4 linked regions of the Homo sapiens genome follow. The protein of the gene in region 2 interacts with the protein of the main gene of each other region in a pairwise test. Each region holds a gene or a part of one and is shown on either strand. Other genes may lie near its edges. The genes, in order: SMARCAD1, CBS, ZNF451 and ZNF181.

What was found.
Region 1: the proteins of CBS (region 2) and SMARCAD1 interact in a two-hybrid assay, tested with the Homo sapiens proteins (one large-scale study listed by BioGRID).
Region 3: the proteins of CBS (region 2) and ZNF451 interact in a two-hybrid assay, tested with the Homo sapiens proteins (one large-scale study listed by BioGRID).
Region 4: the proteins of CBS (region 2) and ZNF181 interact in a two-hybrid assay, tested with the Homo sapiens proteins (one large-scale study listed by BioGRID).

What each region holds. Positions count from the first base shown.
Region 1 is NC_000004.12:94,272,790-94,278,288, forward strand, and holds part of SMARCAD1 (SWI/SNF-related matrix-associated actin-dependent regulator of chromatin subfamily A containing DEAD/H box 1), read left to right. Parts: intron 1-827; coding exon 828-927; intron 928-1,948; coding exon 1,949-2,008; intron 2,009-2,100; coding exon 2,101-2,176; intron 2,177-3,549; coding exon 3,550-3,685; intron 3,686-4,232; coding exon 4,233-4,370; intron 4,371-5,499. UniProt on the Homo sapiens protein: DNA helicase that possesses intrinsic ATP-dependent nucleosome-remodeling activity and is both required for DNA repair and heterochromatin organization.
Region 2 is NC_000021.9:43,062,336-43,066,015, forward strand, and holds part of CBS (cystathionine beta-synthase), read right to left. Parts: intron 3,361-3,680; coding exon 3,281-3,360; intron 3,187-3,280; coding exon 3,052-3,186; intron 2,938-3,051; coding exon 2,868-2,937; intron 1,657-2,867; coding exon 1,565-1,656; intron 744-1,564; coding exon 618-743; intron 61-617; coding exon 1-60. UniProt on the Homo sapiens protein: Hydro-lyase catalyzing the first step of the transsulfuration pathway, where the hydroxyl group of L-serine is displaced by L-homocysteine in a beta-replacement reaction to form L-cystathionine, the precursor of L-cysteine.
Region 3 is NC_000006.12:57,095,925-57,101,423, reverse strand, and holds part of ZNF451 (E3 SUMO-protein ligase ZNF451), read right to left. Parts: intron 2,364-5,499; coding exon 2,283-2,363; intron 822-2,282; coding exon of another isoform or gene 1-821. UniProt on the Homo sapiens protein: E3 SUMO-protein ligase; has a preference for SUMO2 and SUMO3 and facilitates UBE2I/UBC9-mediated sumoylation of target proteins. Plays a role in protein SUMO2 modification in response to stress caused by DNA damage and by proteasome inhibitors (in vitro).
Region 4 is NC_000019.10:34,731,790-34,737,983, reverse strand, and holds the start of ZNF181 (zinc finger protein 181), read right to left. Parts: upstream 3,742-6,194; 5' UTR 2,947-3,741; coding exon 2,938-2,946; intron 1-2,937. UniProt on the Homo sapiens protein: May be involved in transcriptional regulation.

The sequences.
Region 1 (5,499 bases), on a different chromosome or scaffold from region 2:
TTTCTTTTCTTTTTTCTTTCTTTCCTTTTTCTTTTTAAGCAGGTGCTTGCTCTGTCACCCAGGCTGGAGTGCAGCGGCGCACTCTCAGCTCACTGCAGCCTCGACCTCTTGAGCTTAGGCAGTCCACCCACCTCAGCCCTCCCGAGTATCTGGGATCACAGACATGCGCCACCATGCCTGGCTAATTTTGTATTTTTGTAGAGATGGAGTTTTGCCATGTTGCCCGGGCTTGTCTCAAACTCCTGGGCTCAAGTGATCCACCCACCTCAGCGTCCCCAAGTTCTGGGATTACAGGCATGCACCATGGCACCCAACCTATTTAGGTTATTTCCAGTGTTTGGCTATTAAGATAAAACTATGAACATTCTTACCCAAGTCCTTTTGCCAACATAAGCGCTCATATCTCATGATTATATTCTTAAGGGTAGAATTGCTGGGATAGATTAGGCATATGTTTCCTCCATTTAGTCATGGGACATTGCCCTTAAACCATTCAGTGGATATTAAACATTCACTGTGTCTAAGCAATAACCAAAATTATATCCTTTCCATGCAATGCAAAAAGTCTTCCATATTAATGTGTATTGTATATGAACTAGCAATGAAGATCTATCCACTGCTCAGTAAAGTAAGTTATAGCATCATTTGGAGATTATAATCAATTCTGTCATTTGAGAACTAAGAACATAGTAGAAATTCCTTTAGAGTTGCATTCTGGGAAATCAAAAGTGAATACAGCACAGAATTACTGCTTTTTCTTCTGTATTTTTATGTATTTATTTTTTGTTTGTTTTAAAATGTTATATATTGTCTTTTAAACTTTTTAGGGCCTAGGAAAAACTATTCAAGCCATTGCATTTCTGGCATACCTCTATCAGGAGGGTAATAATGGTCCTCATTTGATCGTTGTTCCAGCTTCAACTATAGGTTTGTAATACTGGAGACAACTGTATTTAACTTTATCATGTTTTATATAGGTAGAAGAGAGTGTGTGTAAGGGTGTGTGTCGGAGGGGTGTTGTGGTTTCTTAGTTTGTAGAGATGAATATTAATTTTATGGTCTCTTTATACTTTTCTCCTTTGTTTATATATGTGTGTTTGATTATATTGGCAGTCTTTTAAAAAGAACTCAAATGTAAGTCAGTTTTAAAATTTTAGACCAAGGACGATTTATGTTGGTTTCATAATACTTTTAGTTACTTTTAAAAGTGACTAAGAGAAAATGAGTACTTTTAAATGTAGAATTAAACAGATACGTAATTAATTCCTACACACATAACTGTTCCATTCTTTCTCAATTCGTTGGATGTAGAAGTTAGAATAAGAGAATATTTGTACATGTGAATGTAACAAAGAAAACCCCCTTCTCTTTAAATTGGAGGTTAATAATCAACTGTAAATATAATATTTGGTCATCTGCCCTTCATTTTGATGCCTCACAAAACCTCAAGATCATTTTACATAGGTTTCATAAGGAGTAATATTGTAAAGGGTCTGTGATAAAAACAATCGCCATGGTATTTATATTTTAATTTTTAATTTTTATTTATTTTTTTTAAGACAGTCTCGCTGTGTCACCCAGGCTGGAGTGTGGTGGCTCAATCTTGGCTCACCGCAACCTCCGCCTCCCAGGTTCTCGTGCCTCAGCCTCCCGAGTAGCTGGGACTACAGGCGCCCGCCACCATGCCTGGCTAATTTTTGTATTTTTAGTGGAGATGGGGTTTCACCATGTTGGCCAGGCTGGTATCAAACTCCTGACCTCAGGTGATCCACCCGCCTCAGCTTCCCAAAGTGTTGGGATTACAGGCATGAGCCACCTTGCTGGGCCAGTATTTACTTTTTATAAAAGACTGATTTCTGAGTAGCACTTGTCAAAGTTTAGTGTTAATTTAACCATGTGAACATACCCTATTGTAGCAGATGCAAATAATGTCTCTTCTGTTCCATAGATAACTGGTTAAGGGAAGTTAATTTATGGTGCCCTACTTTGAAGGTCCTCTGTTACTATGGTAAGAATATGTCATTCTGCTTTTAACTTTGGAAATTAAAAATAAAGTACAGCACAATAAATAGTCATGTGTTTATTGTTTTTAAATTCTAGGTTCTCAAGAAGAACGTAAACAAATTAGATTTAACATTCATAGTAGATATGAAGATTACAATGTAATTGTGACCACGTAAGTATTGAGAAATTTGGGGAGGATGGATATTTATGCAGCCCCCAAATTTAAAAAAGAAATTGTAGTAGTACTATGTAGGAAAGTTTATGCTGTTAACTGTGATACGAAAGTAATAGAATGACTAATGTTGAGGATTCAGGCATTTTTTAGTTTGGTGTGTAATACCCATATAGGAGGTTTTTGTTAGTGAATCACCTCATTAATGGTGACTATAAAAAGGTTTTGCCTAGTTATTGAAAAAAGTCGTCTTGTAATAGTAATTTCTCAGTTAAGCTTAAAGTAAAATTTGAGATATCCCACCAAAATTATTTATATTTTTAACTTACAAATAAGTATCTGTAATAAATACAATGAAATTTCATTTTCTCAATGAAAAATTTGAGTTAGGGCAGAAATAAAAATGAAAAATAATACTAATAATACTACTTGGTAATAATTGATGTAAATATCTTGCACAGAACTTAATGCTCTTGTGTTACATTAGTTGATTTATTTAAAGTTCTATTTTAACTGTAGTTATTATTTCTCTCTACTGGCTTCTTGTGTAGGAGTCTGTCCTTTAAAAATTCATGCGGAATTTTATTTTTTCTTAATAAAACAGGCTCCATATGCAGTCTCAAGCTGCTAGCTATTAACTATTATTTCTTGGATCTAATCTGCTAGTTTAATAAAATATTAAGTTTTAAAGAGAAACATGTTTTAGCTTCACGTTCTTTTTTGTGCTTATTAAAATATAACACTTCATGGAGCAGATTACTTACAAGTTATACCCAAATTGACCTCCTCCTGGGTATGTAGAAGTTGTCCGATTGTAACATTAACATTTTCTTTTTTTTTTTTTTTTTTGAGACGGAGTCTCACTCTGTCCCCCAGGCTAGAGTGCAGTGGCGCGATCTCAGCTTACTGCAACCTCTTGCCTCCCGGGTTCACGCCATTCTCCTGCCTCAGCCTCCTGAATAGCTGGGACTACAGGCGCCCACCACCACACCCGGCTAATTTTTTATATTTTTAGTAGAGACAGGGTTTCACCGTGTTAGCCAGGATGGTCTCGATCTTCTGACCTCGTGATCCGCCCGCCTCGGCCTCCAAAAGTGCTGGGATTACAGGTGTGAGCCACCGCTCCCAGCCTTTTAACATTTTCTTTCAATTATGTATTGCAGCTTTCATAGCTTGGTTACAGTGTACATCAATAATTATTAAATACAAGTACGTCAGTATTTATTTGAGTATCACCCGTGTCTAGTGCTGTGCTTTAAGTACTGGCTGTTAGAAATGTGTAAATAAAAAATGATTTTATAAGACATTAAATTTCACTAGACTCCAAGCTCTTAAAGGTATAACCTTAGAGATGTTTTTTCTTTTGGTGACAGATATAACTGTGCGATCAGCAGTTCTGATGACCGTAGTCTGTTTCGACGGCTGAAACTTAATTACGCAATTTTTGATGAGGGCCATATGCTGAAGAATATGGGCTCCATTCGCTACCAGCACCTTATGACAATTAATGTAAGAGAATGTTTGTAAAGTTTTCCAAATTACTGTAAAATTTAGATTACGTAATTTAATATATGTAGTATTTATTAGCAGAATCTGTATTATGTAGTTTAATATATGTAGTATTCTGTGTTAGCAAGTTTTTTCTGTAAAAGGGAAGATAGTAAATATTTCACACTTTATGGACTAGATGGCCTCTGTCACGTATTCTTTGATTTTGTTTTTTAACAACCCTTTAAAAAATTATTAGGTCATAAGCCATAATTTACCTGTTCTATATGTTAAACTATTTATAAATAATCTTTCATCATCTCATAAAGGTGATACGAGGACACAAGTTACCTACTTATAAAAGAAGACCAATGGTTTTCGTATTCATTGCTGTTGATAATAGCGGACGTCAATTATTTAAATTACTATATCATTTATCACAGAATGTTAAATTATTAATAATGGTTTTAATTTATCTCTCCTCCCTTCACCTTTCACTGGGGAGGATAGACATGAAAGGAGTGGCTCTTTAAGAAAAAGCTAATATAAATTTTACCTTCATTCACAGGCAAATAACCGTTTGCTGCTCACAGGCACACCTGTACAGAACAATCTGTTAGAACTCATGTCGCTGTTGAATTTTGTTATGCCACACATGTTTAGTAGTAGCACCAGTGAAATACGAAGAATGTTTTCCTCTAAGACAGTAAGCATAAATGCATATTTTCTCCCAAATATGTTATTTGTGTTTTATCTGGGCCATTCTTCTGTTAGGTCTCTTTTGTTGTTTTCATAGTGCATATGCTCTATGAAGTAACTTTAAGTAGGTGATAACTCTATATTTGGATTGGTTTGGAAACCAGCCAAAATATAATGGGAAAGAAAATAGCAATTTCCCTAATCAATGGCCAGAAGTCTTGGTTAATATCCTAATTTTCTGAAGGATGACGATTTTAAATTGATGAAGAGCTCAGATATATAGTATGTGCGGAAAGTTTGATCATTACATCATCTGTATCAAAATTGGCTACGTAAATTAGTAACATTTCTTTATGGGTAAACTATAAAACTAGACAAAGCTAGAATATCCAGAAAATGCCTATGCTGAGAAATATATTCTGAAATAAAAGTTCATAAAACCAAAGTCACAACTAAAAGCGACAGTAAAGAAATCCTCTTCACAAGAAAAGTTTTGTTACTTCTTTATTGTTTAGGAAAAGTATAGTCTTCAAGAACTCCCAGTTTTTTCAATACCGCAGTGTTTACACTGATTCTTGGCTCTCTTCCACATCACTAATCTTTTGCAAGAATTTTCTGTGATACTCGTCCACTGCAAATTAACTGCCTTTTAAACATTTACTAATTTGAATTCCCTCCCACTTAATGTACAGTGTTTTAAATGGCCTAGCAGATTTTATGAACCATTTTCTATCTTCAGTTCATAATATATGGAGGACTCCTTCACATCCTAGAATAAAATTCTACTTCTTAATTCTCCAGAGTCACCAGTTCTGACTAAGCACTATTCCCCATTTTTAGACCAAGTGATTTGCATCAGTCTGCACTAGCTTCCTTTTGGGGCCATTTTCCACAAAGAAATAAAGGATTTTCTACCCCCCACGCTCCTCCTTACCCACACTTAGACACATTTTTCAATGAGAGTTATCTAGGTAATCGATACATGACTCATCAGTTGATGACTTCTGAACACCCATCTGGTACAGTTCAAATTGATTACTTCAGTAGAGAACATGATTACGTATCATAAAACTTCAAAATACATATGGAGCTTCAAGAAGTACATGGCAGCCCAGAATTCAGATGTGAAGTGCCAT
Region 2 (3,680 bases):
CAGCATGCGGGCAAAGGTGAACGCCTCCTCATCGTTGCTCTTGAACCACTTGTCCACCACCTGAGCAGGACCCCACCACAGCCCGTCAGCGTGGGAGCCGCTCCCACGTGACCAAGAGGGTGAACAGCCTCATGGTGGACCCCGTGTCTAGGCGGTAGGACCCCAGAGGTCTCACCCCAGCCTCTCCCCCTGGGATCGGCACGTCTGCAGACTTTCCAGTTCCAACACGTTTTGCAGACAGCAAAACTGCCCGCCAGCCCCACTGAGCATCCGTGTGACCCACACCGGCCCTTCGGTCTCTGCTCTCCCTCAGGCCAAAGTCAGCTTTTTGGCTCTTAACAGACTTTTCCGGGGCCTTAATTTTCACACGTTTTCCCTGCTCCCTGCCTGTGCCACCTGGGCTACATCCCTTGGTGAGGTCAGGCCACGTGTGCGGACATCGTCCCCCAGTCTACTTTGTCTCGACCTTCGAGACCAGCTTCTCACCATGCGTGCGGGGCTTGCCCTTCTGTTTCAGTGGAGAAGCTGGTTGGGGCCCAGGGTCAGCCAGGCTCCCCAGTGTGAGGGTGAGTTACAGGCTGCACCGGCACTGTGGCCGGGCTCTGGACTCGACCTACCGTCCTGTCCAGCACCGTGGGGATGAAGTCGTAGCCGATCCCTTCCACCTCGTAGGTTGTCTGCTCCGTCTGGTTCAGCTCCTCCGGCTCTGCGAGGATGGACCCTTCGGGATCCACCCCAATGATCTGCAGAGGGCGCGGCTTCAGGGCTCAAGGCCAGCAAAAGCCCCGCCTGGACATGCCTCGATATTCTATTATGGGAGTGGCCAATACCGCCGTTAACAACTGCCTGTTAATGATCTGCCTGTGGGTGGTGGCCTGTTCCCAGCCTCAGAGGCAGGATGAGAAACCCAAGAACCCAGGCTCCAAGTATTAAAGCGGTAATGACCTAAATGTTCAGTGCAGGGCGCTCAGAAGTAAAGGCAGGTGCCTGGGAGGAACTGACCTCCCCGGGGTGCTTCTCGGAGCGGGGCCCCCAGGACAGTCCAGACAGACCACCCTGCGGCGGAGCAGCAGAGCCTTTGGGGACAAAGGGCATTGCTGGGCAGTGACGTCTTTTTCAAGGGCAAGCAACAGGGAGAGAACGCCCTTGTCTCATCAGCGGGACCTTTCTAGGCACCCGTCCTCAGACCTGCTCTTAACCCCGAGTCCAGGAACCCTCTCCCAACTCCCACAAGCCCCAGTTGAGGGGCAGACTCAGGACCAGAGGACTTAGAGCTCCTGGCTGATCCTCAGAGGCCCCCAGTTGGAACTCCGACCCCCCACTCAGCGCAGGAAGGTTCTCCAAGACACTGGCCGGTGAGCGAGCACCCAGCCCCAGCTCCTTCGGGTCACGAGCTGCTGGTCCCTTATGTGTCAAGCACCCTTGTCTTCCCAAACACCTCCCAGGCAGCGCAGAAATACCGCGGGAGACAGCGTGCTGAGCAGACCGTGAGGAATGACAGCTTTCAGCTCAGAAGCCGGGGCCACTCCGCACTGCCCCTCTCCGGCCCGGCCACACCACTCACCCTGCATCCAGGACACTTCTCCTTCAGCTTCCTGGCAATGCCCGTGATGGTGCCGCCCGTGCCCACTGAAGCCACCAGCATGTCCAGCTTCCCTGGTGGACGGATAACATTCTTGGGTCCCTGCCTGGCCAGCCCATCACTCATAGTAATAATCATTGAAAACACACTCAGCCCAAACCACGGTGGGTAACCAAAAAGTTCAAAAGAAAAACTTCTTCTCCAGTTGGAGCAGCCCTCGTTGCTGCCCTTGGTCTGTGAAAGCCTCAGAAACAGGCAGCCTGGGGCACCCCAGCCCAGTCTTTGCTCAGTGACACTCGACCCCTAAAACCCCCATTTGGCTGGATGCAGAAAGACAGGACCCTGTCCGGGGGGTGCAGGCGCTGAGGGCGGGCAGAGGGAGGCTGTGAATTAACCACCTCCGTGGGCTGTTGGATGTTTGCGTGGTGTGAGTGAGTTAACTGAATTTACACAGGAAATGGAATCAGTCTTTTAGGCTTCAGCGCAGAAACTCGCTGGGCGCTCACACTGCTGGCCGCCAGCGCGGGCATCTGGTGGAGAAGTCACAGCAGGGAAAGACTCAGCGAGACGGAGCAGCTTGGGCACCCATGCTGAGACAGGACTGTTTTTGCCAAATGAGAGAGTTCTCACACATAAAGCCCAAACAACCAAATGCCTGGACCTTACAGCCCGGCTCCTGGGCACGGACTGAGGGTGTACTCCAGCCCATGCCAACACCGGATTCCCAATAGGAAGCCAGGGCGCCAACCTCTTGGCAACTTATCTCTAAAGGGATCTCTTGGGAAAACCTCAGTACCAACCCCCACAGGCCTTGGCACCGAGTCCCTGGAAAAGGGCCCAAGGAGCCGGCCTCATGCTTGTAACAGAGAGTGAGCTCATCGCAGATGTCACCAGCTCTGTTCTGCAGATGAATTTGATGCCGAGTCAGGGCATGATCCCAAATGAAGTCCAAGCTGTGAGCCCAGCACCAGCCTGGGCCCTGAACAGACTCGCTGTCTGCATTATCTGCAGGAGGAGCCCCTGCAGACCTGCAGAGATTGCTGGGTAAACAAATACAGCCATGCCCTGTGTTTGCTATTACAGGTAAACCACAGGCGGAGGCCAAGAGGGCACAACGGAGGGAGGAAATTGTTCTAGAGAAATGCTCTAGAAAAGCATTTCACAGAGGGAACATTTGAGCTGGGTTCTGAAGGGTGAATAGGAGTTCACCAAGGAGAGGGCAAGAGATGTGTACACTCCCAGGCAGCCAGGGATAAATGCAATCAAGATGGACAGAGGGACGCACCATCACACTGCTGCAGGATCTCATCAGCGGTGGTGTCGTAGTGAGCCAGGGGGTTGCTGGCGTTGCGGTACTGCATAGAAAGAGAGCAGAGCCCGTGAGCTGACCCCTGACACCTCAGTCACCCCCACATCCCTGACCGAGACCCTCCTAGGGAATGCCTGTCTCCAGGCCCCAGGTGCCTCACCTGGTCTAGGATGTGAGAATTGGGGATTTCGTTCTTCAGCCGCCAGGCCACCCCCACGTGTGACTCCGGGGAGTCGAACCTGGCATTGGTGGGCGTCCTCACAATCTCAGCCCCCAGTGCCCGCAGCACGTCCACCTGCAGGAGGGAAAGCGGTGGCCTGCACCTTCCGCCTGGCCCAGGCACCCTCATCCCCTGCCCTATGACCCCGCCCCTGGCCACGCCCACCCACCTTCTCGGAGCTCATCTTCTCTGGCATCACGATGATGCAGCGATAGCCCCTCACTGCCGCAGCCAGGGCCAGCCCGATCCCTGAGGGCACACAGAGGGTGAGAGGGGCCCAGTGACCCCCCAAGCCCTGCCCCGCCCCTGCCTGGGACACAGGGGCACACCCCGATGCCGGTTCCCTTAGGGCCCAGGGAAGAGGGTTCTGTGGGATTCCAAAATTGCCCAACATGGCTGCTTCTGCCTTCAAGTGCAGGGGGAGAGAGGCTGCCAGAGGCAGAAATAAAAGGTACACGTCAAGGAGGAGGAGGCAGCGGCGCAGGACAGGAGATCTGGTTCCTCCAGGCCCAGCCGGGTACACAGGCACAGGAAGAGCAGACTCCGGGTGCTCGTCTTGTGTGCCAGGC
Region 3 (5,499 bases), on a different chromosome or scaffold from region 2:
GAGGTGTCCTTGGCCACAGGATATACCCTGTGTCCCATGAAGGAAGAAGGATGGCAATCAGCAGGGTCTTTAAAAACCTCAGTGGTGGCAATTCTCAGAAGAGGATGCAATGGAGGAACCAAACGTTTTTTAGAAGTCACACAATCAGGTTTCCCTTCACATGACTCCGCTTCAGATTGTAATGTCACCCTTTTTATAACACCTCTTTGTTCCATTCTCTTCAAAAGACCTGTGAAACTAGATTGGCTGGGGTCAGATGGCTGCCCTTTGTCATCAGCTGATGGTGATTTGTAATCAGTTTCTTCTTCAACTGTGGATAAATTTTCCTCTTTAGAGGTGGAGATGTCCCAAGGAACTGAGGAGTTCTCACTTGGCCTAGAATGATGAAATCTAAAACAGCTCCTGGACTGCAGATCACGTATCACTCGGGACATTTCAGCTACTTGTGTCTGGAGATAGAGGATGGCATCCCGTCCATGCTGTGAAGCTGAAGAAGAATCTATACGTAAATTCTCTTTGACCTCAGAAGAGGCCAAAGATTCTTGGGGGACCAGAAGTGGAGATGAAGGCAGAGTCTGAAAATTCTGTGATGATTTAAGGGTCTCTGTCTCAGAGATCTTAGTATCTGAATTATTTTGATCATTTTTCTGGTTCTCCAATGGGTTCTCAACAGAGGAAGTTTGAGAAACTATCCTTTCTGGACTGCTGGAACAACTCCCAGAGAAGGAGCTGCTATCTCCAATGGGAAGAGGAACATTGCAGCTAGAGCACATTTCTGGGCGATGATTCTCAGAGGATGGCACCTTAGATTCAGGCATTCTCTGGGTTATCCACATGAACAAGAAAACCAAGGAAGAAAAAAAATATGCTTTTAATATGTTAACTTTCAAGTGCAGAGATTCATGTCCAGTAAGTAGAACTCAATTTTTAAATTATTATAATTAACAGTGAAAGATACAATCCACTCAAGGTCAGCAAAAGGAATCAGAGAAGTCAAATCCACAAGCTTCACTACCCCAAAGACCCAAAATCAACTACTGGCATTAATCTGGGACTCTGTTTATGAAAAAGGAGAGAGTAAAAACAAGCTCAGATCACGTGGTGCTATGCTGGCCTGCTGTTTGGTCCTGTGTGAGACCACTCATAAGAATAAAAGAAAAAAATATCCCATTCAAGATATGTTAAGTTCTACTCAAGATATGCAAGAAGCTAATGATGGCAAAGAGAACTTAAGGAAAGTTCCACTGAGAAGAAAAAAAATCTAAAACTCCCCCATTAGAGTCATTTTAGGCACCTCTGAAAATTCTGTCATTCACTGTCCACGAATAACAAAACTTCCCAGTTGTATAGTCCTACTTTATGGTTTGTAGTTATAAGAAGTTATAATTTGTTACCTCATTTCATCCTCACAACAACCCTGTGAGGTAGGTATTATTTGATTAAAAAACGGAGGCTAAAAGGTTACTTAATTTATCCAAAGTCACAGAATTTGTAAAGAGTAAAGCTGGGACTCAAACCCAGGTATTCTGATTCCAAGTCCAAGTCTCAATCCCCTATATCACAGAGCAAGAAGTTTGTGGCCACTCTGAACAATAACTAAGAGTTTTCTAATCCAAGATGAAAACAGCTCATTAACAGAAGTTTGGGCTAAAGCAAGGACAAATGAAAGGCAAGACTGTTACAAAGGGCTCAACTAGTTCAATTCTCAGAGCAAGGGAAGTATTGGTCCAAGGGTCAAACCTACAACCAGTACATCACAGGTAAGATAAATAACTCCAAATATGTGGGGCACAGACAAGGTTAAAGGGATGATGACTGAAGTAATATATCCCCTATAAACCCTTCCCCCACTTTCCATTCCTAAAAGGATCTCTACATATCCTTTTTTCTAAGAGAAAACAAATTTTCTGTGGTCATGTGGTTCTGGAACAAAAGAATCCTGTTGTATAGGGCACCTGAGGAGAGTAAAGGAAAAGAGAAGGGAAAGAGGAATCAATAAGCTTGCAGTTTTTATTCCATTTCCATTTTATCAGATATCACCTCTAAGGCTCTGAATTTCCCAGAGTCATATTATCATTTTTTTCATAATCTCATTCAAAGTAGAGGAAAAAAACTGGAAGTAGGAGATCTGGGCAAAGGACTCCTTGGACTACCTATTTTAGCCCATTCTAATAGAACTGGCTATTTCTAAACACAGCCTTCCCTGATTTGGTAACTCTCTTTAGAGAATACCTCTTAAAAGACACAAGTGAAGAAACACAAATCAAATATAATGTACTTACATCAGTATAAGAGGTGCTAGGCTCTTCATCATCACTGCTGACCAGATCAATGTATTCAAGAACAGGTCGTAATGGTCCTTCCTATAAACAATCAAGCAAATTTAGAAGTCATTAACAGTTATTCAAACCAAATTAGCATTTAAACCTACAGTGTTTTTTTTGGTTGGGACTGGCAAGAATTACTCTGAAGAGGGAGCTTTGTGGGTAGCAGAAAATAACCAGAACAAAAGCAGCAGAGGAAAATATTCAAAATATATAAATGTAAAATGATGACAAGACCTAAAAGGAAGCACCTACACCCCTGTAGAATATTAGGGCCATGTCAATTACTTGGGAAAGGAAAATTAATATAAGAACAGTGCTACAAAGACACAAATATTATAATCCAGTGCTTTACACCTAGAATTGGTATCAAAAGTCTGTTAATATATCCAAGTTCAAAAATGAATTGACTTATAGCTCAGCTTCATCATCCACCACTGCAGAGTCAAGCATCAAACCTGAATTCTTTTCCATTCTTTCTTTCCATCCATGCCAATTTCTTCATCAACCAGGCCTTGAATGTCAGGCTTAAAAGCCTAGATTTTATTCAATAGGCAAAAGAAAATAAAAAATAATAATAAGACAATAACATGAGAACTGTGCTTCAAGATCAATCACATAGAGGAGTATGGAGAGCAGGGAAAGCAAGATAATCAGTATAGGCACATGACAATGCAGAACTAATGGTGGTGATGGCAAGAAGAGTATGGTAGTGGATATACAAGAGAATACAAGTAAAATGGAAAACTAAAAGAGATTGATTATTAGGCCAGGTGTGGTGGCTCATGTCTGTAATCCCACCACTTTGGGAGGCCAAGGTGGGGGATCACCTGAGGTTAGAACCATGCCTGGCTAATTTGTGTACTTTTAGTACAGATGGGGTTTTACCATGTTGGCCAGGCTGGAGTTCGAGACCAGCCTGACCAACATGGTAAAACTCCATCTCTACTAAAAATGTACAAATTAGCCAGGCATGGTGGTGCGTGCCTGTAGTCCCAGCTACTCAGGAGGCTGAGGCTGGAGAATTGCTTGAACCTGGGAGGCAGCAGTTGCAGTGAGCCAAGATCACGCCACTGCACTCCAGCCCGGGCAACAGAGCAAGACTATCCCAATAATAATAATAATAATAATAATAAATATATAAATAAAAATAAATTTAAAAGATTATTTAAAAAACAAAACAAGGAGTCAGTGATCTCTAAGTTTTTAACCTCAGGTGACTATAAGAATAGTAATGCCAATAGTATAACTTTGGAAAGCAGAAACAGAAAGCTGACATTCCTATGGGCTGAAGTAACAGTGGTACACAGGGTGTATCTAGCAGACAGCTGGAAATGCAGGCCTGTAATCTGGGAAGTATGAACATACCTGGAAATAAAGACTTGAGAGTTGCTCCCCTAGAAGACTATTAAACTCTAGAACTAAACTGAACTATCATATTGCCTCAATAAAAAGCTGTCAGTGTTAAATGTGGCCAGAAACACGGCAACAATAAAATGCCACTGAATGTGGCAACCAGACATTTTTAAATGTCTTTGAGAGAGCAACTTTCAAGAAAGTAGTGAGCACAGAAGCCAGGCTCTAAAACACTAGAGAATGCAGTAGAAAAGGCCATATTCTTTTGAGAAATCCAGTATGTTGGAAACAAAAGAAAGGAACACAGAAGAAATAATAGCTGAGGAAAGGATTTTGTAGGATGTAGAAAGTTGACTGCTGGAGACAGAAGCTGAGATCTAGGTAATGATCTTCCCTAGAATAGGCATCCAGTCTCAAAGATAGCTTCTTTCTCCCCTAGGCTATGACTTCTGCTCAACCAAGAAACTGCCATCTTTTGGGTACTAATTCAGATACCAAGATAAAACAAGAGGGCAAAACTGGGCAGGGATCTGTAGCAAAGGAATTGAGATTTTTGCTCAAACTATAAACACGGAAGTAAAAATTAAAGAAACAGAGGAAGCAATACTCTCCAATATATGGTAAACAGAGCTGAATCACCTACTTTAAAATCTACATCTGGTATGAAGAATGTAGGCCATGCACGGTGGCTCACACCTGTAATTCCAGCACCTTGGGAGGCAGAGGTGGGTAGATGACTTGAGGTCAGGAGTTCAAGACCAGCCTGGCCAACATGGTGAAACCCTGTCTCCACTAAAAATAGGAATAGGGTGTAGTGGCGGGCACCTGTAGTCCCAGCTACCCAGGAGGCTGAGGCAGATGAATTGCTTGAACCCAGGAGGCAGAGGCTGCAGTGAGCTGAGATGGTGCCACTGCACTCCAGCCTGGGCAACAGAGCAAGACTCTGTCACAAAAAAAAAAAAAAAAAAAAAAAAAAGACTGAAAATTGTATGTTCGATCCAAGAAGAAAAATTAAAATGATAGCTTTTCCCATTGATATAATCATCTTACTTTGCTCTCTACAAGAAATATGCATTAGGAACCTTCATTATAGGTCCACAGAAATAGCAGAACACAAAAGCGCCCCCCTACCCCCCCGCCCCGGTAACCAGAAATACACAGAGGCAGAGTTCCCATGCACAGAAAGTAAAGAAGAAGATGAAAGATGACAGGATGCAAGGTAAAAAGTAAAATGGGCTGGAAAAAAATAAGATAAACAGGCTGGGCACGGTGGCTCATGCCTGTAATCCCAGCACTTTGGGAGACCAAGGTGGGCGAATTGCCTGAGGTCAGGAATTTGAGACCAGCCTGGCCAACATGGTAAAACCCTGTCTCCACTAAAAATACAAAAAATTAGCCAGGCATGGTGGTGGGCGCCTCTAATTCCAGCTACTCAGGAGACTGAGGCAGGAGAATTGCTTGAACCCGGGAGGCAGAGGTTGCAGTGAGCCAAGACTGTCCCACTGCACTCCAGCCTGGGTGACAAGAGCGAAACTCCATCTCAAAAAAAAAAAAAAAAAAAAAAAAACAGAAAGAAAGAAAGGAAGAAAGAAAATGATCAAAAACATAATTTAAAAATAGCTGCAGGCAGGATGGCTCATGCCTGTAATCTCAGCACTTTGGGAGGCCAAGGCAGGTGGACCACATGAGGCCATGAGTTCGAGACCATCTGGGCCAACATGGCAAAACTCTGTCTCTATTAAAAATACAAAAATTAGCTGGGCGTGGTGGTGTACATCTGTAATCCCAGCTACTCAGGAGGCCGAAGAACAAGAATCGC
Region 4 (6,194 bases), on a different chromosome or scaffold from region 2:
ATAACCACTGGTACCAGTCTGTGGCCTGTTAGAAATCAGGCCACAGAGCAGGAGATGAGTGGCAGGCAAATGACTTTTATCACCTGAGCCCTGCCTCCTGTCAGATCAGCTATGGCATTAGACTCTCATAGGAGCGCAATCCCTACTGTGAAGTGCGCATGCAAGGGATTAAGGTTGCACGCCCCTTATGTGAATTGAACTAATGCCTGATGATCTGAGGTGAAACAGTTTCACCCCCAAACCACCACCTCCTGCTTCTGTGGAAAAACTGTCTTCCACAAAACCGATCCCTGGTGCCAAAAAGGTTGGGCACCACTGCCTTAGATAGTCCTTAAATAAGACCTGAAAGTAAAGGGAAAAAAATAAAGGGGTACGTTTCAAAGAAAATAAGGAAATGTTCACAGATGTGGCTTAGAAATTCCTTTCAATAGTACTCATTTCACAATATTACTTTTTAGTAAAACTTTGGAAGCTTAAATATTCAATAATAGTTTATTGGCTAGTCAAATTATAATATGTACAAAAAATACATCTATTTAATACAGCATTATTACTGTCTTTGATTTGTGAAACAGACTGCTTGCCTGTGGTAATTTTTTAGCTCTGAGAGTTAATTCAGCATTGTATTACATTATTTGGATATTTTGCATGCATGTTCACCAGTGATACTCGTCTTTGGTTTTAAAGGCAGAATTTATTTTTGCCAGGTGTTGGGAAAATAATTAAAATTCAAATCTCCTGCCAATGGCAGAAAATCCTCTCCACAAATGTAGAAAAAAAGAACACAGTTTTATTACTTAATAATCACTAAATCAACTGTGATGCACTTCACAGGCAATCCACTAATGAGATTAAAAGGACAGGAAGAAATCTCTTTTTTATAGCCAAGCAGATACAATCCAATACATACATTTTCCAAATAATCAAGTAAGACCTTACAGTTCAATTTGCTACACATAATTTATCCTAAATTCACCTGTTAATTGGAGTTGCCACTGTGTTAGTTAATTCCCTTTATCCCAAATCAAAAAAACATTTCTCATAGCTTTATGATGAACAGGTTATTACAAGTTAGAGCCAGGGATGCTTCCTTCTTCCCCTTCAGTTGTCTGGGCAGCCTGGGGTGTTCACTCATCTCTGTCCCCAAAAGAACATAGCCTATCTGTCCTGGCATTTATTTTAATTTCTTATGCTTTCTTACTTTTCTACCAGTGCTGCAATCCTCAATACAGTAGCCACTAGGCAATTTGGCTACATACATTTAAATTAATTAAAATGTAAAAATAAAATAAGTAAAGTTTAAAATTCAGTTTCTCAGTTGCTTAAGCCACAGTTCAAGTACTCAATAGTCATACAGGGCTGGTGGCTACTGTACTGACCAGTACACATGCAGAGCACTTCCACCACTGCAGAAAGTTCTCTTAGACAATACTGCACTAGATCATGAAGTCCTGTGTGTCAGTGTACACCAAAATCCATGTACAACTTTTCCTAACAGATACTTCCTAAGTGTTTAGAAGATGAACCAATGAATGATTTTGGCATTAGTTCACTTTAGCTGTTACTTTTTTCTTGCTCTGCCGCCAGGCTGGAGTGCAGTGACATAATCATAGCTCACTGCAGCCGCACACCACAGGGTTCAAGAAATTTTCTCAACTCATCACCCTCCCGAATAGCTGGAAAAACAGGCATGTACCACCACACCAGTTTTTCAATTCTAATTATCTAACTTCTCCAAGAAAACAGACTTCACCCAACATGTACATCTGCTACTCACATCCCCTCCTATGCAAGCTTCACCTTCCATGCCATGATTCTGCCCCACCAGTTCGTCATTACTCATCTTATTCACTCCACAATTACTTACTAAGCATCTATTTGGTGCCAGGTAACCCTCTGGGTACTGAAGCTATAACAGACAACAAAAAAGAAAAAAGATTCCTCCCACCAGGAACAGACAATGAGCATGTGCATATACTGAACATACAGTACATCAGCTAGTGAGTGACACACACTGTGGAAAACAACAAAGCAGTGATGGAGGAGTGGAAGTGCTAGGCGAGGGAAGGTGACTGCGATTGCAAATAGCCATTCAGGGAAGCTTTTCTGAGAAAGTAACCACGGAACAAACACACGAAGAAGATAAGGATGCAAGTTTGTGCGTATGTGGGGGAAGAATATTCCACGTCGATGGCACAGCAACTAGTGACAGTGGCTAGAGCTCACAGGAATGAGGAGGCAGAGAAGGAAGGTGGGATCAGAAAGGTAATGGCCTAATTGTACAAATAGGTCATTGCAGAAGTGACTCAGTTAGAGCCACTGAAAAATTATAGGTTGAGGAATGACAGGAATTTATGTAACAATAGGACCACGGTCACAGCTGTACTGAGAACAGACTGATGAGGGTTAAGGGCAGATGCAGGGAATCCAGCTAGGAGGCTACCGCAATAATCCAGGTGGCTTTATTGCTATCACTACCGGGGTGGTAGTGGTGGTGGTAGTGCTGGGGTAACTAATGGTCAGATTCTGTATACAGTGTATAGCTTAGCTCCAACTAGAGGATCTGAATATAGGTATAAGTCAAAGGGAAGAATCAAGGATGACTGCAAGCATCTCTTCACTTGAGACCACATGGTACAGTTTTGACAACCATAAACCGAATAACCTTACATTCCAAAGTTGCATTGTGAATTACAGTTTTAAAATGTTGGCAAGACTAGAAAGTCTTCTAGCAGAAAACTGTAGAAAAGAGGAACACTGGGTGAGGAGGATAATACCTTGGAGCTCTCCTGTGGGCTCCGTCCTTCCTATACTGAAAGGAACCATGGATCCAGTCCCTTAAATGGACTTGGTTAGGTGGGAACAGGCAGGAGAAGCAAAGCAAACACACAGTCCTGATAAAGTGTTTCAGGAAGATTTGCGGACACACCGACCTACCTGAGGCATTACTCTGCAATTTCCAACAGCCAACAGAGTCCTCTTTCCAGGCTCTTATCTTAGAGATGGGCAGTGTCCTGAGGGCACAGAAGGGCAGGAAAAAGCAGTCATGAAAAATCAGGCTTATCTTGCGGCACCTGTGACACACCATAATGGAAAGGCACACTGGTAATCACTCTCCAGGGCGCCAATCTCTCCCTGGGAACTAACAGGGTGTTTCTCCGCAAGGGCTAACCATTTACCAGGTGCCACCTGCGAGGAAAATCAATTACTCTGTAAATAAAATCCTCATAAAACAATGGTAAAAACTTTATCAGCTCGTTCAGTCTTCACCACTATGCACGGTGTGCGTTCACATTTTTCCAGATCTATTTTTTAAACGATGACAAAACTGAAATTCCAAGATACTGAACCCATTTGTTCAAGGTTACACAACTGTAGAGCGCCGGCTTCATGACGACATAACCCAAAGACAACTGTGGCTGGCGTCTAACCACGCGCCCACTTCACTCTCACAACAGCGCCAAGAGGTCGGCGCCGTCATCACCCCGCGTTTACATAGGAGGACATGAAGGCCAGGAAAACCAAGGCACCGGCCGGGGTCACACCGCGGGGCAGACCCAGGGCCTGAGCCCCGCCGCCGCCCCCGGGACTCATACTGGCCGGAGTCCTCAGCAGGGCCTCACCGTCCCCGCAGGCGCCCCGCGTCGCTGGTGAGCGGGCAACGGCCGCCGACCTCTGGGGACGACACTGCCCAGAATCGTCCCGGAGCCTGGGAGTCGCCGTCAGGCCTGAGGCTACAGCGGGGCGGACCCAGTGCGCCGCCCACAGCCGATCGACATTTCCCAGAATCATCCGCGCAGGGGACAAAATTCCAGGCGCAACGAACCGCAGGTACCGGAAGACCACACTTCCCAGGAGTCTCTGCGGCCGCGCGGACCTGGGGCGCCGCGGGCAAACAGATCTCGGTTTCCTAAAAAACTAAACCGCCTGGGGCTGTCGTCCCAGAGCCCGGCAGTTAGGACCATGCGGGAAGTGTCCTGGGGCATATAGTCATACTGATGAGGTGAAAGATACACCTCGGAACCAAGGGCCACCCTCTACTTTTAAGGACAATGGCGCCGGGACCAAGAAACTACACTTCCCAGAAAACCGTGCGGCCGTGGCAAACTCTTCTGGGTCTAGCGTGCGCTCACACTAATGTTTATCTCCCGGGACGTGGGCAGACCTTGTACCAGGCGAGCTCTCGCCTTTGCTAGCAAAAGAGCTCCTCTCTTCCCAAACCCTGCTACTACGCTGTCCACCCTGTATGGTCTTTGAGGTCTTTGAGGTTTTTTTGGAATTCACTTGCTGGAGACTACAGCTCACAGAACGCCCTGGGCTGGATTGTGCCAGCTGTAGTTCGCGAACCAAGGACATTTCCTGGAAATGCATGCGGCCACGTATCTGTGACAGAAATGGCAGTTCTCACGTGCGTTACGCCCCCTGGAAGGACTTGGAAATACGGAACTTGAGTGAGCACTGAGAGGACACAGACCCTCATCCTGGGAGGAGTCACTCCTCCCGCAGCCATCAGAGCCTGACAACCGCTTCTCACCAGAGGCGCTTCTTAGACCCTGACCTTGCCCGGCTCACCCAAAGGGGCAATGGCCTTCTTTGTATGCAAGCCAGACAGTCTACTGTTGTATATTTGAATTTTTTACTTTATTTTTAATATTTTAATTAAATTTTAATTTAATGCTGCCTCTACCTCTGAGAGAGACAGGGAGAGATGGGGGAGGCCTGGAGTGGGGGCCCTGCGGGGCAGGGACAGGGGACCCTTCCTCACTTTGCACAATCTGGGAACCCTCCCCAAGCGGAACAGCCAGCTGCAGTGGAAAAGCACTGGCTTAGTGGGCTTCGTCCTGGGGACGAAGGCTGGGAGACTGCAGCTGAAAGGTGTGGGCTCCAGGAGGGCCGCAGGGGGCCTAGCAGCAGCGTCAGGGAGCAGAAGTCCGCCCTCCCTCCATCTTCCTTCCTTCTCTGGCCGCCAGAGCGCTCTGTCTCCCTCCCACGCCCACAGCTACAGGTGGAGCCGGCTTGGGGCGGGGGGGGGGTCCTCCTAGGGCGAAGAGGGCCAGGAGCCTTCCTGAGGACCTGAGGCTCCTCTGGGCCTCCCAGGGCTGGGCCTGTGATCTGATCTGCTTTGCCCTGGGAGGGACGTGCTCAGTGGTGGGGTTTGTGTAGCTGTCACTCATTCACCTGCCTGTGCTCAGCCACTCACCTGCTACTCCCATTGGCACCCACCCAGTACACATGTGGGTCGTCAGCTGCCATCAGGAGTAGTTCCTGCCTGTGTCACACACACCCATCCCACCCACCACACTGCAGGTTACAGGATTGCCCCACAAGCGCCACCATGCCTGCCTGAGGTTACCTGGCACACAAGTATCCTCACCTGCATGACATGACCAGATCGTGCACTTTCTATGCCAGGACCAGGGCCAGGGCAAGCTTGCACCTTCAGCCTTGGGGACACTGGGGGTGGTGGTGGCTGGAGGCCAGGGAAGTCACCAGGCTGGAGACATCATCTACCTCCAGGAGAGGGTTGATATCAGACATCTCCCATGCACCACTTTGAGCTATCTCAGCGTCACCTGGGACTCTGGCTGGCACTGTGACCAGCAGTTCCATGAAGGTTTAGACCACCTCTAGGCTTAGGAAGGGCCTCCCTTGCCATCAGCGTGGTCCAGGCTGCACGCCTGGTGACCAAGGGCTCTGGGCAGCAGATGCAGCCAGCCAGAGTGTTGGGGTGAGGGGCCTGGGCACAGGAGGGACGTGAGGCCTTCCCTGCACCCCCATGACCACCATTTCAGAGGGAGGACAGCAATTGTTTGGGTTTGTCCTGTGAGCGGTGGCAGAGGGCAGGGCCCAGGGCAGGTCCAGGGCCAGACAGGCATCCCATGCTACAGCCTCGGGGCCACGAGGGCACATGATGGGGTCGGTGTGAGGGCATCCCCTGTGCCAAATACCTGGGCAGGAGGTGCCCTGGGGTTGGTGGGTGGGTCAGGGCATTTGCAGGATTTCTGGTTTCTGTTGGAGTTGTATGTCCTGGAGAATGGAGGGAAGAGAGAAAGGGTGAAGAGAAGGGGGAAACGACCCCTGCTGCTTCCTGGCCTCTAAGTAGGGGGTGATGGGTGGTTGGTGAGTGGCAGAGGGGTCAGCGGGAGCTTCAAGGCTGAGCCAGGGAAGCGGAGGCAGCAGGGATGCAGACCTTG